2 separate regions of the Homo sapiens genome follow, and region 1 is linked to region 2. A link means that fine-mapping ties the variant in region 2 to the expression of a gene that starts in the linked region. Tissue or cell type: lung. Region 2 holds a variant in brackets; the other region holds the start of a gene. All regions are shown on one strand. Distances are from middle to middle.

What was found. PIP is the estimated chance that this variant, and not a neighbour inherited with it, causes the effect.
Region 1: DTX1 starts here. The variant in region 2 is fine-mapped to the expression of DTX1 in lung (TOPMed, PIP 0.95).

What each region holds. Positions count from the first base shown.
Region 1 is chr12:113,053,003-113,061,331 of GRCh38, reverse strand. DTX1 (deltex E3 ubiquitin ligase 1) reads right to left here and starts at 4,602. Exons shown (of 10, transcript NM_004416.3): 1 at 4,388-4,602; 2 at 2,881-3,883. The coding sequence starts at 3,139. It also overlaps the pseudogene RPS15AP32. RefSeq lists an enhancer at 2,576-3,364.
Region 2 is chr12:113,081,259-113,089,587 of GRCh38, reverse strand. The region is part of intron 3 of DTX1 (deltex E3 ubiquitin ligase 1); the gene reads right to left. Among named protein-coding and RNA genes, the nearest start is that of DTX1, 29 kb to the right of the region's middle. RefSeq lists a silencer at 2,675-2,764 and enhancers at 6,687-6,796, 6,827-6,886. The variant A/G (reference allele first, on the strand shown) is at 4,619.

The DNA.
Region 1 (8,329 bases), 28 kb after region 2:
AGGCAGCTGAGGTCTCCTGCCAATCGCAATAGGTTTCCAGGCCTTCCTCCCTCTCTGGTTGGGGTGGGAGGGGGTTCCTGGCAGGCTCCCAGGAGTCCATTTAGGAATGAGTGTTTTTTTTCCCTTTTCCGGCAAACAGGGGGCAGGTGTGGAGTGAACAGCTCTGGAGAGAGGGAGAGGGGAAGTGACCAGAGCTGAACTTCTGGGGGATCCAGTGAGGCTGAACCATAAAAGGGGTACTATTGAGAGAATGGGGCCTGATGAAAGGGGAGTGTGCAAGTCTGGGGACTCGGGAACATAAGGGGATGCTGGGAATAGAAATGGGGGTCCCCCCAAAGATAAGAGGATCAAAGGTAAAGTTGCCAACTTGGCAGCCTTGTGGGGAGTCTGTCCCTGCTTCTAAGGACCCTGCCGCCCATACCCAACCCAGCTAGGTCCCGGAAGATCTCTACACCCAGCATTAGCTCTGAACCTGCAGAACACCAGACCTCCTAGCAAGGAGTGACACCTACCCACTTCTGCTCTCACAGCCCTGCCCTCTACCCCTAGGAGAAAACAGAATGGGGCGGGTAATGTGCAACACTTCCCCTTCTTCCATCAGGTCCTTGGTGCCTCTCTGGAAGAATGGGCACATGGAGCTAATGATGACTTCTACTCTCTGGATCAAATTCAAAGTTCTTTGCGTGGCTGTCCAGGCCTGTACATCCGGTCCTTGCTCAGCTGCCATCTTGCACCATCTTCCCCTTGGTGGGAGATGCATCCCAAACAGAACGGACTTAAATGTCCTCTGCCCCTTCCTACCCCAGGGCCTTTGCACTGGCTGTGCCCTCTGCCTGGGACACTGGCACCCTCACTCATTCTTCAGATCTCTGTTCAAACATCACTTTCTCAGGCTAGCCTTCCCTGAGTACCTCTGGGCCAGGTTTAGTTCATGCTCTCGGATCTGCCACTGATTGTCTCTGTGGTGATATGTTTGCTTGCTCCCTGACCACACCAGGACCTTCAGTGTAGGTCCTCCAGCACAAGACCTCGACTGATGACTTTGTCTTGCTCCCTGCTGTACTCCAGTGCTTAGCACAGAAATTGACACACAGCAGAGATCAATAAATAATCATATGATGGAATGCATGAACAATTGGCACCATCAGTGATGGTGGTCAATGCCTGGAGTTACGGAAACATAGATGTACTAATCTGTACCATCAATAAGCCATTTGTTATGAATTCGCCTGTGTTTCCAGACATGGTAAGCACTCTGTGGGTACCTAGCAATGTTCCGGACTATTGGAAAGTTCAATCATTGCAGAAACTTATATTGGACTGTGCTAGTTAGAAAGGCTGGCCTCCTTTCTAACTAGCATGGTGTAATAGAACTTTCTGCAACAATGCAATGTTCTGGATCTACACTGGCCCACAAGGTACCACAAGACACATGTGGCTATGAGCACTTGAAGTGTGGCTAGTGAGACTGAAGAACTGGATTTTACATTTTACTTAGTTTTAATTAATGTAAATTTAAGTAGCCACATGTGGTTGGTGGCTAACATATTGGTTGGCACAGCTCTAGAGGGAAAGCGAGCATCCTACCAGCCTGGGGTTATTACGTGTGGTTCTGTCATCCAGGGATTCATAGGAACTTCCCCAAACCCCATCAGCTGGTCCTTGGGGGGTCAAACATGCCAAGGATTTCTAGGCTGCTTCTGCACGGCAGGACCCCACCAGTCCCCACTGCCCATGGAGCTTGTCACAGATACCACCGGGCAATGACTCAGGGAGATCTCCCCAACGATGACAAATCTCCAGAACAAAAGAGAGTAGGCCTGAGAGTGGGACCTCATCGATTTTATCTCCATCATCAGCCATCACATTACCACCAACGCAACCATCAACATCACCATCATTACAACCACAACAGGATCACCAATACCACTAAGTAACAGCCACACACAGGGCTACCAGCCACACCACATGGCCACGAAGACTGCCACCAACATCATTCTCTCATTTTCTCCATCATCACCACCCCATCACACCACTTCCAGCACCACCACCAACACAACTATCAATGTCACCAACACCACTGAATCCCATGGTTAACGCTATCACTGACATCACCACCAACACTGCCACGTCACCATCATCCATCCCTCCATTGTCACCAAGACCCCACCACCATCAATACTATCACTGAGTCACCACCAACACAACCGCTAACACTGTCTCCTCCATCATTGCCACCTCACCCCACCATCAACACCACCAACGCCCCCCATCCCCAATTAATTACCACCAGCACGACTCCACCCCACAAACCAACACTTGGAGCCAGTATAGGATACCAGTTAAGAACTTTGGTTCTGGAACTCAACCGCCTGGGTTTAAATCCCAGCTCTGAGTTTAAATCACTCAGCTTCTGGGAGACTCGGTTTCTTCATCTATAAAATGGGACTCATAATAATACAACAATACACAGACTTACTGCCTGTGATTCTTGGGAAAAATCAAATGAGGAAGTGCATGTAAAGCCCTTATTCTACAATCCCATGCTACTGCTGTTCTAGGTTCTGTGCTCAGTGAGCACAATTTTATTTAATCCTCACTCAGCTGTGAGAGATATTGATCTACCCATTTTGCAGATGAGGAAACTGAGGCTCAGAGAGATGATGCAACTTGCTCAAGGCCCTACAGCTTGCTCAGAGGCTGCATTGGAATCCAAGTCTTAAACTGGACAAGGTTAGACTGCCCTGTTTTTCTGGAGGTGAGGCAGGGAGATGGGGAAGGGATTTGGCATCAGCAGATTTACTGGGATTTTCAGCATCCTACGCTGCAAGGTAGTGATGGCTCGGCGGGGCGGGTGGCATGGGGTGGGTGTCTGCTCACCTGTGTCCTGGCGAAACTGGTGCATGGACTGCAGGTCGATGATGTAGGGCACAAGCTGGGCGTCCACCTGCCCCAGGACCACGGAACCGCGAGCGTCCTCCTTCAGCACGTTCTCAATGTGGTGGCACACGGTGGCCGTGTAGGGCCGCCAGCGGCTGTGCTCATTCAGCCACTCCCACACCACCACCCGGGCCACGTTCTGCGGTGGGAAGCCCAGACCATTCACAGGCATCAGCCCACCGTGGCCTGGCCGTGACATGGCCGCCACTGCCTCAGGGGCCAGGTCCCCCACTATTGCAGGCCCAGCTCCTCCTGGGCCTGGCAGCAGGCGGCAACTTCCTCTCTCCCCAGGGGGACAGCAAGGACCGTCTGGCCTCCTTTCTAACTCTGGGTTCTCTCTGAGGCCTAGAGACCTCCGTTAAAGGAATGTGGGATGGCCATCCAGGCTGCAAAGACCCCTTCCCTGTAGAGCCTTCTCCGATAAAGGGTGCTGCCCTGGAAAGCAAGTGTCTCTCTTATGCCGGAGGAAACAGCTCTAAAGTCCTTGGCCCCCTCGGCTGGCTCAGGTAGGGAGTGAGGCAGCCGCCCCTGTTCGAGGTCCAGCCTCTTCCGTGTTGTCTCTTGGTCCCTCTTCCCCGCCAGACAGGGCCTGTCACCCAGGAGGCCTGGGCCACAGCCTGCTGCTCCTGCGGCTCTCAGCCAGCCCTTTGCACTCCCAACTGCGTCCCAGACCCTGCGCCCGGCTTCAGTGGGGCTTCTCGCCTCCCTCCGGTCTGGGCCCCCTTCTCCGACGGCTCCTGCCGAAGGGGGCGTCCCTGCCCCCTTGTTCCCTCTCCACGGTGTCCTGGAAGGCCTGGGTGGCCGCAGAACGCACGGGGGAGGGGTGCGGCGTGGACCCTCGGGCGGCGCGCCTGGACTGCGGCTCCGGAGCTGGGCTGGGGGACGAGGGGGACGAGGGGGGCGGGGGCCCGTGGGCACGCCCCACCCCACTCGTGCTCGCGACCTGCCAGGAGACAAGAGGGGAGAGGGCCCTTTAAGAGGAGAGCGCAGCACCCCCTCCCCCCTTCCCAGGAGAGCATTCGGCTGAGAACAATGGGGAACCGAAGGGGGACAGCAAGGGGGGCGTACGGGGTCGCCCCGCCCGCTTTCCCTTGGGGCAGGCCTGGAGGGAAGGCAGGGGCCGGGGGCGCGGTTTTCCGAGACTCTCCGCCTGGGGGGCGCCCTCCTTGGCTCCCGGAGCCTTCCCTTCCCCCGGGGCCCTCGCCCTGCCGGGGGGATGCCGGGTGCGCTGGGGTGCGCCGGGAAGCACGGGGATGCGCGGCGCTGCAGGCGCGGCCCAGGGCCCCTCGGGGGTCGCGTCGCGGAGGGGGCGAAGCCAGGAGCTGGATCGTCTCTGCCTCCCGCCCTGGGGGTAACAGCCCCGCTTCCCCAGCCCAGACGTCCCCGAGCCGCTCGCGGGCCCCCAGCGGGAGCCGGGGGTGGGGTCCCTAAGCACCCGCGTTCTCACCGCCTCTCTTCGTCTCCGGCTCCGGCTCCGGCTCGCGCTCCAGCACCGCCGCCTCCTGGGCTCCCCCCGGAGTGGGAGGGAGCCGCGGTCCCGCCTCCGCGCCCGTTCCCTCCCAGGCCCCTCGGCCGCCGCGCCGAGCTTTCCGCGCGTGGACAGACTGCCCGGCCGACGGACGGACGCAGGAGCCGGCTGGCGGCCGCCGGGATCTCGCGGGTGGGAGGAGGCCTCGGCCGTGCTCCGGGAGGGAGAGGGGAGGGGGCGGAGGAGGAGGAAGGGGAGGAGACAGATCTCGGCCCTGAGCGCCACCGGCGCTGACACGCGAGTCTCGGGGCGCCCCAAATCCTCGGCCAGGCCCTCCCGAGACCCCAAGGGGCCTTCTGACCCCAAGCAGAGCGTGAGGCAGGGAGTGGGATGTTTAGGAGTCACCGGCTTGAATCTTTGTCATCTTTATTTCCAGTCTCCCAGTCCAGGGCCTGGCACTGAATAGGTGCTCAATAAATGCTTGAATGAATGAATAAGATCCAGAGACTGTCTAAAGAAAGATCTTGAAGCATTCAGAGCTAGCCTCCTTTCCTCCTCTAACTATTCCTGGGGGTGGGAGGGTGCTGACAAGGCCTGATTCAGACTCAGTTGGAACCGTGGAATCTGAAGAGTACAGATGAGGAGACTGAAGCCAGAGAGAGTAAGAGCCAGGCCCAGGATCACAAAAGCTTAGAGCGATGCCCAGACACCAACCCCGATCTGAATCTCCTGCCAGTACCCAGTTCCCAGCCCTGAGCCCACTTCCCCCAAAGCACCCACCTGCTCCAGGTGAGAGGGGTGGGACCAGGGGAGGGGACCCTGGCCAGGAGGTGAGATCCTGGAGGAAGAGAAGGGCAGGCCCTCTGCCATGTCATTCACAGCCACCTGCAAACAACTGGTGCTCAATAAATGGTGGGTGAGCATTGGTTGGATGGAAGGGAAGGCTGGAAATGGCAGCGGCTCAAGTGTTAACGGGATGGCCAGTCCCCCTGTCCTCCAGCAAGCTGGATGCGGCTGAGACACACATTGGCTGGGAGGGGGGTGGACCACCTGGGGCCTGGGGGTGTTTAGATTGGGGAAGATGAAGGATGCGTCCGGGAACTCCAGCCTGGGTGGCTGACGGGGGTCAGTGGCCTGTTTGGGCGCCTGCCCAGAGCAGCCCACGCCTGCCTCCCCGGGGCAGATGGGGATACACTAGGCAGGGTCAGGGGCAGGCTGCTCAGGGGTGCTTTCCCAGAATCCAGCTCTGGCTCTCCGGCCAGCTGGAGGGACCTCCCCTCCCCAGGCCCCTGCTCTGACCTGCAGCCCAGTGTTGGATGGGCTTTTTCAGATTGGGTCAATGATTCTGCTTGCTTTCACCTGCTGTAGACTAAAGAGAGAGGCTTTGCATAGGGCAGGGCCAAGTCTGACGATACTCCCACAGGATCACTGAGTTCTGGGATTTTAGCCTAGGGTCCCTGGATGGCCTTCTGGGGTCCATGAAGTCCCCCTCTCCCATTACAGGCAAACTTGTGTGTCTAGGCATTGTGTGTCTTGTATGTCTGGGAAGAAGGGCTCTGGCTGTCAGCAGATTCTTCTCACAGGAGACTGTGACTGAACGGATTCAGAGCAGGTGCTCAACCAGCTTATGTTGTAGAAGGATCTGGGGATCCCACAGTGGAGAAGAGATTGGCTCAAGGTCGCATGGTGATTTAGCAGCAAATTGGAAAGAAGAACTCGTGTCTCTGGACTTCCTGTCGAATGCTATTTAAGGTCTGATTAAATGTCACCTCCTCCAGGAAGCCTTTCCTGAATTCACCCCATCTTCCTCTGTGTTCCTTTGCCCATACCTTGACATGACACCCTGTATCACAATTAGCCTCTTAAATGAAATCTGTCCCTGCTAGAGTGAGATAGCCATCATATTCATCTTGGTGTGGTGTGGCTGGTGCCCCATTACATAAGGGTGTCATTTACTGAGTGCCTATTATGTGCCAGGCACTTAAATAATACTTACTACTCTTCATAACTGCCCCACAAGGAAGGTAATGTTGTCCTCATTTTACACAAGGAAACAAAAAACCTCCTGAAGCTCAGAAAGGCTAAGTAGCTTACCCAAGTTCCCACAAGGAGTAAGTGGCAGAGCTAGGGTCTGAGTCCCAAATGCTTTTGCACCTCCCATAGCACCATGCTGCCTCTGTGTTTGTTGAGTGACTACTGGATGGCACCCAGCTGAGGATCTGGTGCAGAGTGGCCCTTAATGGCCCCTCTCAACTGGGTTTGGAACATCTGGGAATGCAACACTCTGCTCCCAGGGAACTTGGGGAGAAAAGAATTCCAAGGAGAGGGAAGGAATTTGGCCACCAAGGAGCCCACAATTCATGGGAGGGATGGCTCAGATACCAATGGGGAAGTCAATAGGACAAAAGCAAAAGCAATCAATCATGAACTGTTTTTTTTTTTTTGGTCCATTGAGGCATTTTATTCATATGAATTTATTACATCCCTAGAAAAACAATCCCAGGATTTTCCCTCCTGTGTATTTTTGTCTTGCTTCCTTGCAATCCCTGATACCAGCTGAGGTTGTCAGGACAATGAAACCAAAGGGGATAGGGGTACCATTTTTCTAGATCTTTGAGTTGCACATCAAACTGGGGCTTGTCACTGTACACTTGTTTAACCTGCCTGTGAGGTCCACAGTGATTTTTCTAGCTCTGTGATTATTGATGATTGCAAATTCACTGATGTAAACTAAACTTCATCATCACACTTAGAAACTAGATGATGATTTTGGAACACAACCTAAAACAACCTGGTATTTGCTTCTCTTCTCAGCATGTTGATGCTATTGAGAACACTGGCCAGGACGTTCACATGCACCATTATAGCAGCTCAGAAAGATGGCAGAAAGAGACCAACTCATTTTTTTTGTTCTGCCATCCACCATCCACTTATCCATCCACCCGTCTATCCATTCATCTATCCACCCATCCTCCATCCATCCATTCCACCCATCCATCCACCCACCCACCCACCCACCCACCCATCCATCCAGTCATTCACCCATCCACCCACTCATCCATCATCCATTCATCCATACACCCACCCACCCATCATCCATCCATCAATCCATCTATCCATTTATTCATCCATTCATCTATACATTCATGTATGAAATTTCCCACCTTCCTTGCTTCCCTTCCTCCATCTCTCCCTTCCTTCCTTCCTTCCTCTTTTTATTTTTATTTTTTTAAGATGGAATCTTGCTCTGTCACCAGGCTGGAGCACAGTGGCGCAATCTCAGCTCACTGAAACCTCTGACTCCCTGGTTCAAGTGATTCTCCTGCCTCAGCCTCCCAAGTAGCTGCAATTAGAGGCACGTGCCACCACGCCCAGCTAATTTTTATATTTTTAGTAGAGATGGGGTTTCACCATGTTGGCCAGGATGGTCTTGATCTCCTGACCTCATGATCCACCTGCCTTGGCCTCCCGAAGTGCTGGGATTACAGGCATGAGTCACCGCACCCGGCCCCTTCCTTCCTCTTATCCACTTATTCATCCATCCATCCATCCATCCATTCATCCAAAAAATACCAGATGCCCTCCTATGTGCCAGGCACTGGGCTACGTGCTGAGATAGAGAGCTGACACCAGCAGCATGGTCCCTGCCCTCCTGGGTCTCAGAGTCTAGTGAGGAAGTCGGACATGAATCAAGAATCACACAAAGTCTAATTCCAAACTTTTGCAAAGACTATGAGGGAAAAGTACAGGATATCGTGAGGACATCTAACAGGGGTCTTATCAGGTCTAAGGAATCAGGGAGGGCTTTTCAGAGGAGTTGATGTTTCAGCCACTCCCTGAAGGATTCATAGGTCTTAATGTGGCTGAGTGGGGTAGGAGGGGGAATGATTAAATCAGAGGAAACAGGGATGTGCAAAGGCC
Region 2 (8,329 bases):
GGACACGCTGTTTCCTCCGAGTCAGTGAGAACATCCTCCTGCCTGGACAAGCGACCGCTGCCTGCGGGCCTCCCGGAAGGGGAGCCAGCCTTCACCCCTAGCTCTGCCTTCTTGGGGGCCCAGGCTGGCACAGGACCTGAGGAGTCCCTCAGGCCCTCCCCGAAATCTACTCTGACCAGAAGGCAGGCATGGGCCCCACTGCCATGCAAGCCTCTCTGCCTTTCCCAGTCCCAAATCAGATCCCATCTGTCCTCTGCTCTCACTCCTCCTGCAGCTCCCACTTTGCTCACAGTTAACACCTGGCCTCCTGATCTGGCCCCCATCTACCCTCTGAACCTCATTTCCTATGTGTTCACCCCTCTCCCACTCCACTCCAGCCACCCTGGTCTCTCTGCTCTTTCTCAAGCATGCCAGGCACACTCCCACCCCAGGGCCTTTGCACTTGCTGACCCTTTCCCAAGGTGCTCTTCCCAGATATCCTCATGGCACACTCCCTCACTTAGCACAGGTCTCTGCTCAAATGTCAGCTTATCTGAGACACCTTCCCGACCACTTTATTTAGTTATTTATTTATAGACAAGATCTTGCTCTGTTGTCCTGGCTAGAGTGCAGTGGCTTAACCATTGCTTACTGCAGTCTTGAACTCCTGGGCTCAAGCGATCTTCCCACCTCAGCCTCTTGAGTAGCTGGGACTACTGGCACACACCACCACACCCAGCTTAAACAACAACAACAACAACAACAACAAAACTTTTGAGGAGACAGGGCCTCGCTGTGTTGCCCAGGCTGGTCTGGACCTGACCTCCTGGGCTCAAGTAGTCCTCCCTCCTCGACCTCCCAAAGTGCTGGGTTTACAGGCATAAGCCACTGTGCCTGGCCGCAACCACTTTATTTTTAAAAAGCCCATCTTTGTCCTTACCTTACTGAATTCTTTTTTCATAGCACTAATCACGACCTGACATTATAGTCTTTTTTTAAAATTATACTTTAAGTTCTAGGGTACATGTGCACAACGTGCAGGTTTGTTAAATATGTATACATGTGCCATGCTGGTGTGCTGCGCCCATTAACTCATCATTTACATTAGATATATCTCCTAATGTTATCCCTCTTTAAGCATGACCAGGCCCTGTATGATCTGGTCCACGCCGCCTCTTCTGCCAGACAAAGTTAGAGCAGGAATGTCAAATATATGAGTGCATACCACTACTGTCCTCCTAGCACCCACAGCAGGCATTACTAATCAATTTCGGCATGCCTTACCGCTAAGCCAAGATGCAACTTCAGAATCCTCCTCAACACAGTGCTCCAGGAAGTCACTGCCCTGGAGCAGAGATGGCACATGAGATGAACTCTATTTGTCATTTATTTTGCAGATGATGGGACTGAAGCCCAGAGAAGGGAAATGACTTCACTAAGGTCACCCAGCTGGTTGGTGGTGCAGCTGGCACTGGGTCCTGGAGTTTCCGAGTCAGGGGCCAGGGCTGACCCTGCCAGGTTGGTCTGTGGAGCCATCTGGAGTTGAGCCAGCCTAGAGAGCCCTCTGTGCTCTACAGGTGGGCTGAAGTCTTTGACCTGGATCCTGGAGCTGGCTCAGGCCTGGGCAGGGTAGATCAGGGCTGTCTAACTGGATCCATTGGCCTGCTTTGGCCACCTCTCTCTGTCCCCTAGAGGGGTCCAGGATCCCGAAACACTGACAACTGACCCTCCCTTTAGGGCAGCCAAGTCCCCTCCCTCCTCCAAAGTCTGGTCTCCTTATCTCTCCCCTCCCACCCCCAGCAGGCCTAGACTTGTTACTTTCTCTGATGCTAGTTTCCAGGTCCCCCATTGGCCTTGGCCCCCTTCAGGATACCTCACACTTACCCAGCAGACCCCAAAGAGCCCCAGGAGCCTCAGGACTCAGTCATTTGGGGCCAAGTGGGTGAGGAGGGGGCAGAAGTGAGGATGTCACTTTATGGGGAGAAGGAAGTTGAACAGTGCTTTAGGGACCCCCCACCCTCTCCCTTTCTCCTTTCTAGGGGTGTGAGCCTGTCACCTTTCCCCACTTTCAGGGCTGTCTCTGCCTCATAGCTGCCTTCTCCCCCTCCTCCCCCCACAGTCCTGGGGAACACAGCCTGGGGCCAAGTCCCTGCCGCCACCCCCACTGCAGAGACTTGAAGGACATCGCTGCAAGCCCGGGGGACCAGGTGCCCATGGACTCCTCCTCAGCTGCTGTCTGGGGTCCTCACTTCCCCTTTCCTTACCCCAGCACCTCCGTCTGCCTAGACAAACCTCTGAGCTTCTCTGGGCTTCAGTGTCCCCTCTGTGAAATGGGACCCCTTACTTCTGTCTTCTAGACCCCTTACTTCCATGTTCTAGAGATTAAAGGATGTAAAAGTCCCCTCGGGAGACATTTTGAGGTGTGAGTGGTATTGGAGGCTCAGATTTATCTAGAGGTATGGGGGCTGCGGGGGTCACTCTTCAACCCTCCCGGTCCTCCAGCCTGCCCAGCTCTCTGCGGGGGAAGGAACGGGAGGAGATGGTTGGGGGCAGGGAGGACCGGTCAGGTAGGGGAGGGGAGGGCAGGACCGGCTGTTCCCACGGCCCGGGGCAGCCACGTGCAGACAGGAGTGTGTGTGGTTTGGTCTCCCAGGGAGCAGGGCAGGAAGTGCTTCAGGTGGGGGGCAGGGTGGGGGGAGTGTTTGGTTTGACCTTGCAGCAGCGGTGAGGCGGGGTGACAGTCACTGCACACCAGTGGCTAGCGGGGCAGAAAAGTGGGGGAGGGTGGGCAGCCAGGGGCCTGGTGGGGTCCTTGACTTCACAGTGTACCTGTCAGTACTTTAACATTTTCAAACCCCTGAAATGTAATACTTATGGAAGATCTGGAGAAAGAAAATGTGGATTTTTTAAAAATAAAAGCATAAAATCACTGCAAGAAATTTAAAGAAAAAAGGAAAAAAAAGGAAGGAAAACCCTAAAACACACCCACCACAACAAAGTCCCTTTGCCCTTGGCCTCCTGCTTCAGCCCCACTGCGGTCTATGCTCAGCATTCAGAGTGAACCTGTTAAAACAGTCCCACCCGTCTCTCCCAACACACAGCCCTGCTGGTTCCCTTCTCATGCAGAGCAAAAGCCAAAGTCCTAACCGCAACCTTCCAGACCCTGTGTGACCTGGCGCCTTTTCCTCTCTTACTTCTTTCCCACCGATTGCCCTGAGCCTCTCCAACCACACTGGCCTTCTCAGGCACCCCAGACCCACTCTGCCTCAGGGCCTTTGCACATGCTGTTCTGCTGTCTGGCATGTTGGAATGCTCTTCCCCCAGTTCTTTTGCTTTTTTTTTTTTTTCTTGATACAGGGTTTTGCTCTGCCACCCAGGCTGGAGTGCAGTGGCTCGATCTTGGCTCACTGCAACCTGGGCTCAAGGGATCCTCCCACCTCAGCCTCCTGTGTAGCTGGGACTACAGGCACGCACCACCGCACCCAGCTAATTTAAAAAAATTTTGTAAAGGTGGAGTCTCACTATGTTGTCCAGGCTGGTCTCAAATTCCTGGGCTCAAGTGATCCTCCCACCTTAGCCTCCCAAAGTGCTGGGATTACAGGTGTGAGCCACAGTGCCTGGACCATACCTTGCTTTTTAACCTCCTTCCACCTTTGCTCAAGAAGGTATTACCTTCTCCATGAGGCCTTTTCTTCTCATCACTCCCTACATCCTTTCTCTCCTATATTTTTCCTCTGTAGCAGTTACTACTTTCTACCATATTCTACAATTAATTTATTCTGTTTCGTGTTTGTCTCCCACTAGAATGTGAGCTCCAAGAGAGCAAGGACTGTCTGTTTAGTTCACTGCTGTGTCCCCAGGGCCCCAAACAGTGCCTGCCACACAGAAGTTATTCAATAAATATGAATGAATTAATTAAAAAACAGATGAACATATGCTATAAAGGAAAAAGAAACAGCAAACTACAGAAAAGATGGGAGACAAAGGGTTAATGCCCTTAATGCAGGAAGAACACTTGCAAATTAATAAGGAAGCAATAAACAGCTCCAGGGAAGGATAAGCCAAAGAAATACACAAGTAATTGGCAAAAGAAGGAACCACTCATGGCCAGTAAACAGGAAAAAGTTCTCAGGTTCAACTAAGAACCAAGGGTACGGAAACTTAAATGACGTCTCTTTAGGAATTATCAGCTTGGCAATGTTGTACAAATCTGATAGAGATGGGAGGGACAAGGGTGGATTTAAAATGGGAGCAGGCCTGGCTGGGCACTGTGGCTCACGCCTGTAATCCCAGCACTTTGGGAGGCTAAGGTGGGTGGATTGCTTGAGGTCAGGAGTTGGAGACCAACCTGGCAAACATGGTGAAACCCCACCTCTACAAAAAATATAAAAAATTAGCCGGGTTGGTGGCGTGCGCCTGTAGTCCCAGATACTCAGGAGGCTGAGGTACAAGTATTGCTTGAGCCTGGGAGGCGGAGGTTGCAGTGAGTGGAGATCTCGCCACTGCACTCCAGCCTGGACAACAAAGTGAGACTCCATCTAAAAAAAAAAAAAAAGGGTACGGGCCTGAGAAATCCAAGTGCTTTGACATCTGGCTTCATGATGGACTATGTGGGCCTGTGTTGCCAGTCCCATTTCAC[A/G]GATGCAAAAACTGAAGACCAGAGAGGAAGATGAGCTCAGGCAGGGTCACACAGGAATCAGGGTGGGGCTTCTGGGACCATGATCCAAAACAGTACAGGCTGGCTGGAGATGGGGCATCCCCAATATGCTGGTCAACTTGGGTTTTTGAATCTGAGTCCTAATTGTGTTACCTTGTGCAAATGTCTTAGTCTTCTGGAGCCTCAGTTTCCTCATTTGAAAAATGGGGATTATAGAACCTGCCACATTGAGTATCTGTGAGAATTAAGAGAGACATGCCTGTAAATGGCCAGACACAGTGGTTCATGCCAGTAATCCCAGTGCTTTGGGAGGCCAAGGCGAGAGGATCACTTGAGCCCAGGAATTTGAGACTAGCCTGGGCAACATAGTGAGACGCCCATCTCTACAAAAATAAAAAATTGGCCGGGCATGGTGGTGCATACCTTTAGTCTCAGCTACTTAGGAGGCTGAGGCAGGAGGATTGCTTGAGCCCAGGAGGTCGAGGTTGCAGTGAGCTATAATTGTGCCACTGCACTCCAGCCTGGGTGACGGAGTGAGACCCTGTCTCACACACACAAAAAAGCCATGAAATTGAGAGCCTGGGACATAGGGAGCGCTCGATAAATGGAAATAGGCCCGCAGCTATCACTGTCCTCCCACCCACCACGTGGGGTGGAAACTCTGAGTGTGGTTCCTCTGCTCCACAGCTGTGTTCCAACGCACTGGACACTGACCCCTCAGGGGACAGGGCGGATCTTCCCCACCCCCGCAGGTCCCCCAGGCCCAGGCTGCCAGCTGGCTCCCCGCCCTGTCTGTTACAGGGGCAAGTGGAAAAAACCCTGGCCAGGTGGATACTCTGCCCCCACTGGCTGGGTGACCCTAGATGAGCCAATCCCCCTCTCTGGGCCTCCTTCGCTGTTACCCGTCCAGGGCTGAGATGAGGTTGGAGGTGAGAATGACATTGAAGATCTCTGCAGAGTTCACACCTCCCTTGCAAGCTGATCCTTGCTGAGTCTGCCCATGTGAGAGGTGGTGGTTTTAGCTCTGTCTGACAGATGGGGAGACTGAGGCTAGAGAGGCCAAGCCTCAAGTGGGTCCAAGGTCACCCAACCTGTAAAGGGCTCTGGATCTGTTTGGGTCCAGGAGGGGAGAGAAGGAGGGTGGACAGAAGGAAGCCAGGGAAGGAAAGAGAGTGACTAAGAGGAAAAGGCAGAAGACAGAGAAAGAGAGAGAGAGACACAGAGCTACAAAGAGATATGGAAAGACTGAAAAAGACCAAGACACACAGAGATATTGTTTGGTGCAAAAGAAATGGTGGTTTTTGCCATTAAAATTATTGGCAAATTGGCCGGGCGCAGTGGCTCATGCCTGTAATCCCAGAATTTCGGGAGGCCGAGGTGGGTGGATCACTTGAGGTCAGGAGTTCGAGACCAGCCTGACCAACATGCCAAAACTCCGTCTCTACTAAAAATACAAAAAATAGCCGGTCATGGTGGCAGGTGTCTGTAATCTCCACTACTTGGGAGGCTGAGGCAGGAGAATCACTTGAACCTGGGAGGTGGAGGTTGCAGTGAGCCAAGATTGCACCACTGCACTCCAGCCTGGGTAACAGAGCAAGACGGTCTCAAAAAAAAAAGTATTGGTAAATTATAAAAGGAGAGACACACAGACACATTGTTATGGGCTGAACTGTGCCCCAAAGAAGTCATGTGTTGAAACCTTAAGCCTCAGGACCTCAGAATGTGACTGTATTTAGAGACGGGGTCTTTAAAGAGGTAATTAAGATAAAATGAGGTCACTAGGATGGGCCCTAATCCAATAGGACTGATGTCCTTCTAAGAAGAGAAGATTAAGACACAGACAGGTACAGAGGGAAGACCATATGAGGACACAGGTAAAAGATGCAATCTACAAGCCCAGGAGAGAGGCCTCAGAAGGAAACTACCCTGTGACACCGTGATCTCGGACTTCTAGTCTCAAGAATGTGAAAGAGAGAATACATTTCTGTGGTTTAAGCTGTTACTTTGTTACCACTGCCCCAGCAAACTAATACAGACTTAAAGTCATAGAGACAGGCCAGTCGCTGTGGCTCACGCCTATAATTCCCAGCACTTTTGGAGGCTGAGGCAGGCGGATGCTTGAGGCCAGGAGTTTGAGACCAGCCTGGGCAACATAGTGAGATCCTGTCCCTACAAAAAATTTTAAAAAATTAGCTGGGTGTGGTGGTGCGTGCCTGTAGTCCCACCTACTTGGGAGGCTGAATCAGGAGGATTTCTTGAGCCCAGAAGTTTCAGGCTGCCAGGAGCTGTGATTGCGCCACTGTACTCCAGCCTGGGCAATAAGAGCGAGGCTCTGTCTCTAAAAACAAAAAACAAAGACACAGAAACAAAGAGACCAGGGTTGGGAGGGCTGGGAGGTGGTTTGGGGACGAGAGTGACAGTGGGTAGACCTGTCTGCCTGGCTCCTCAAAGACCCCCCACCTCCATCCCTTTCCCCTCATAGGCTGCACTTGGGCCTCAGCTGTCTCAGCAATGGAAAGCTTTAGGCGGAAGAAGCCAGGGTCTGCCACCCCTATCTTCCTTCCTCCTACTCCCCTTCCCCAGCAACAGGCTCCACGGGTCTTGAGAGCCAGAGGGATTTTCCCCGGGGGGTTTCTTGGAGATGGAGCGTTGGGGACTTTGAGCCGGGCTTGTCTGGCTGGGGAGGATCAGTTAGAGGGGCTGGAGTGAGGCTGGGCAGCATCTGCGTGGGTGGGGAGGGATGAGGGAGTTCTTGAGAAGTTTCCCCCACCCCACATCTTCTGTTTTCCAGGCCAATGTCTGGGCTCAGGGAGGGTCAGAAACAGTCCCCAAGGGGAGGGGCAGGAGAAATGATGTCGGCTGTGGGGGAGCGGCATGTGGCTGGAGACAACAGAGCTCTGGCAGGTCAGAGGAGGACATGTTTAATGATCCGCACCCCCAAAGAGAAAACTTCCTTTTCACTACAGCCCTCTAGAGCTCAAGCACACTCTATAGCTCCCCACTGATGGCAGCACCAAGCCCAGGCTTCCCTGAGGCCACCCAACCTGGCCTTGTACCCCCATTTGGGGTAAAAAATCTCAGCCCCCACTGTTCCAGAAGGGAGCCTCTATCCCCCGGTGGTCTCCAGAACCTTCTGGATTCATTCCTACCTCTGCCCCTTTGCACCTGCAATGCCCTGCCTGGGGTGCCCTTCTCCTTCTTGCTGGCGCCTCACTCCAGCCCTCCCCACACCTCTAGCCCTTCCCTGAACACACCACGCCCTTCGAGCCCCCTTGAAGTTGTTCATGCTGTTCCCTCTGCATGGATCAGCTGTTCTCCACATCTGGCCACCTCCTCAGAGGGATTTTCCCTGAATTCCCACATCACCCTGTCCCACTACCTCCCCAGCACTTCTGTCTCACTCCAGAGATCGTCTTCATTTACTCTTTGCTTGCTGTAGGTCTGTCTCCCCATCTGTCTGTGTGCCCCGGGAGGACACAGGCCTTGTTTGTCTTGTTCAGCTCTGTGAATACACACCCACAGCACATATTTGGAGAATTAACACTAGGCCATGAAAGCTGAGTAATTTTCAGCCTCCTCTAGAACAGTAGCTTTCAAATCTCTCTCTTTTTTTAATTTTTTTGGAGACGGAGTCTCACTCTGTTACCCAGGCTGGAGTGCAGTGGCGTGATCTCGGCTCACTGCAACCTCCAC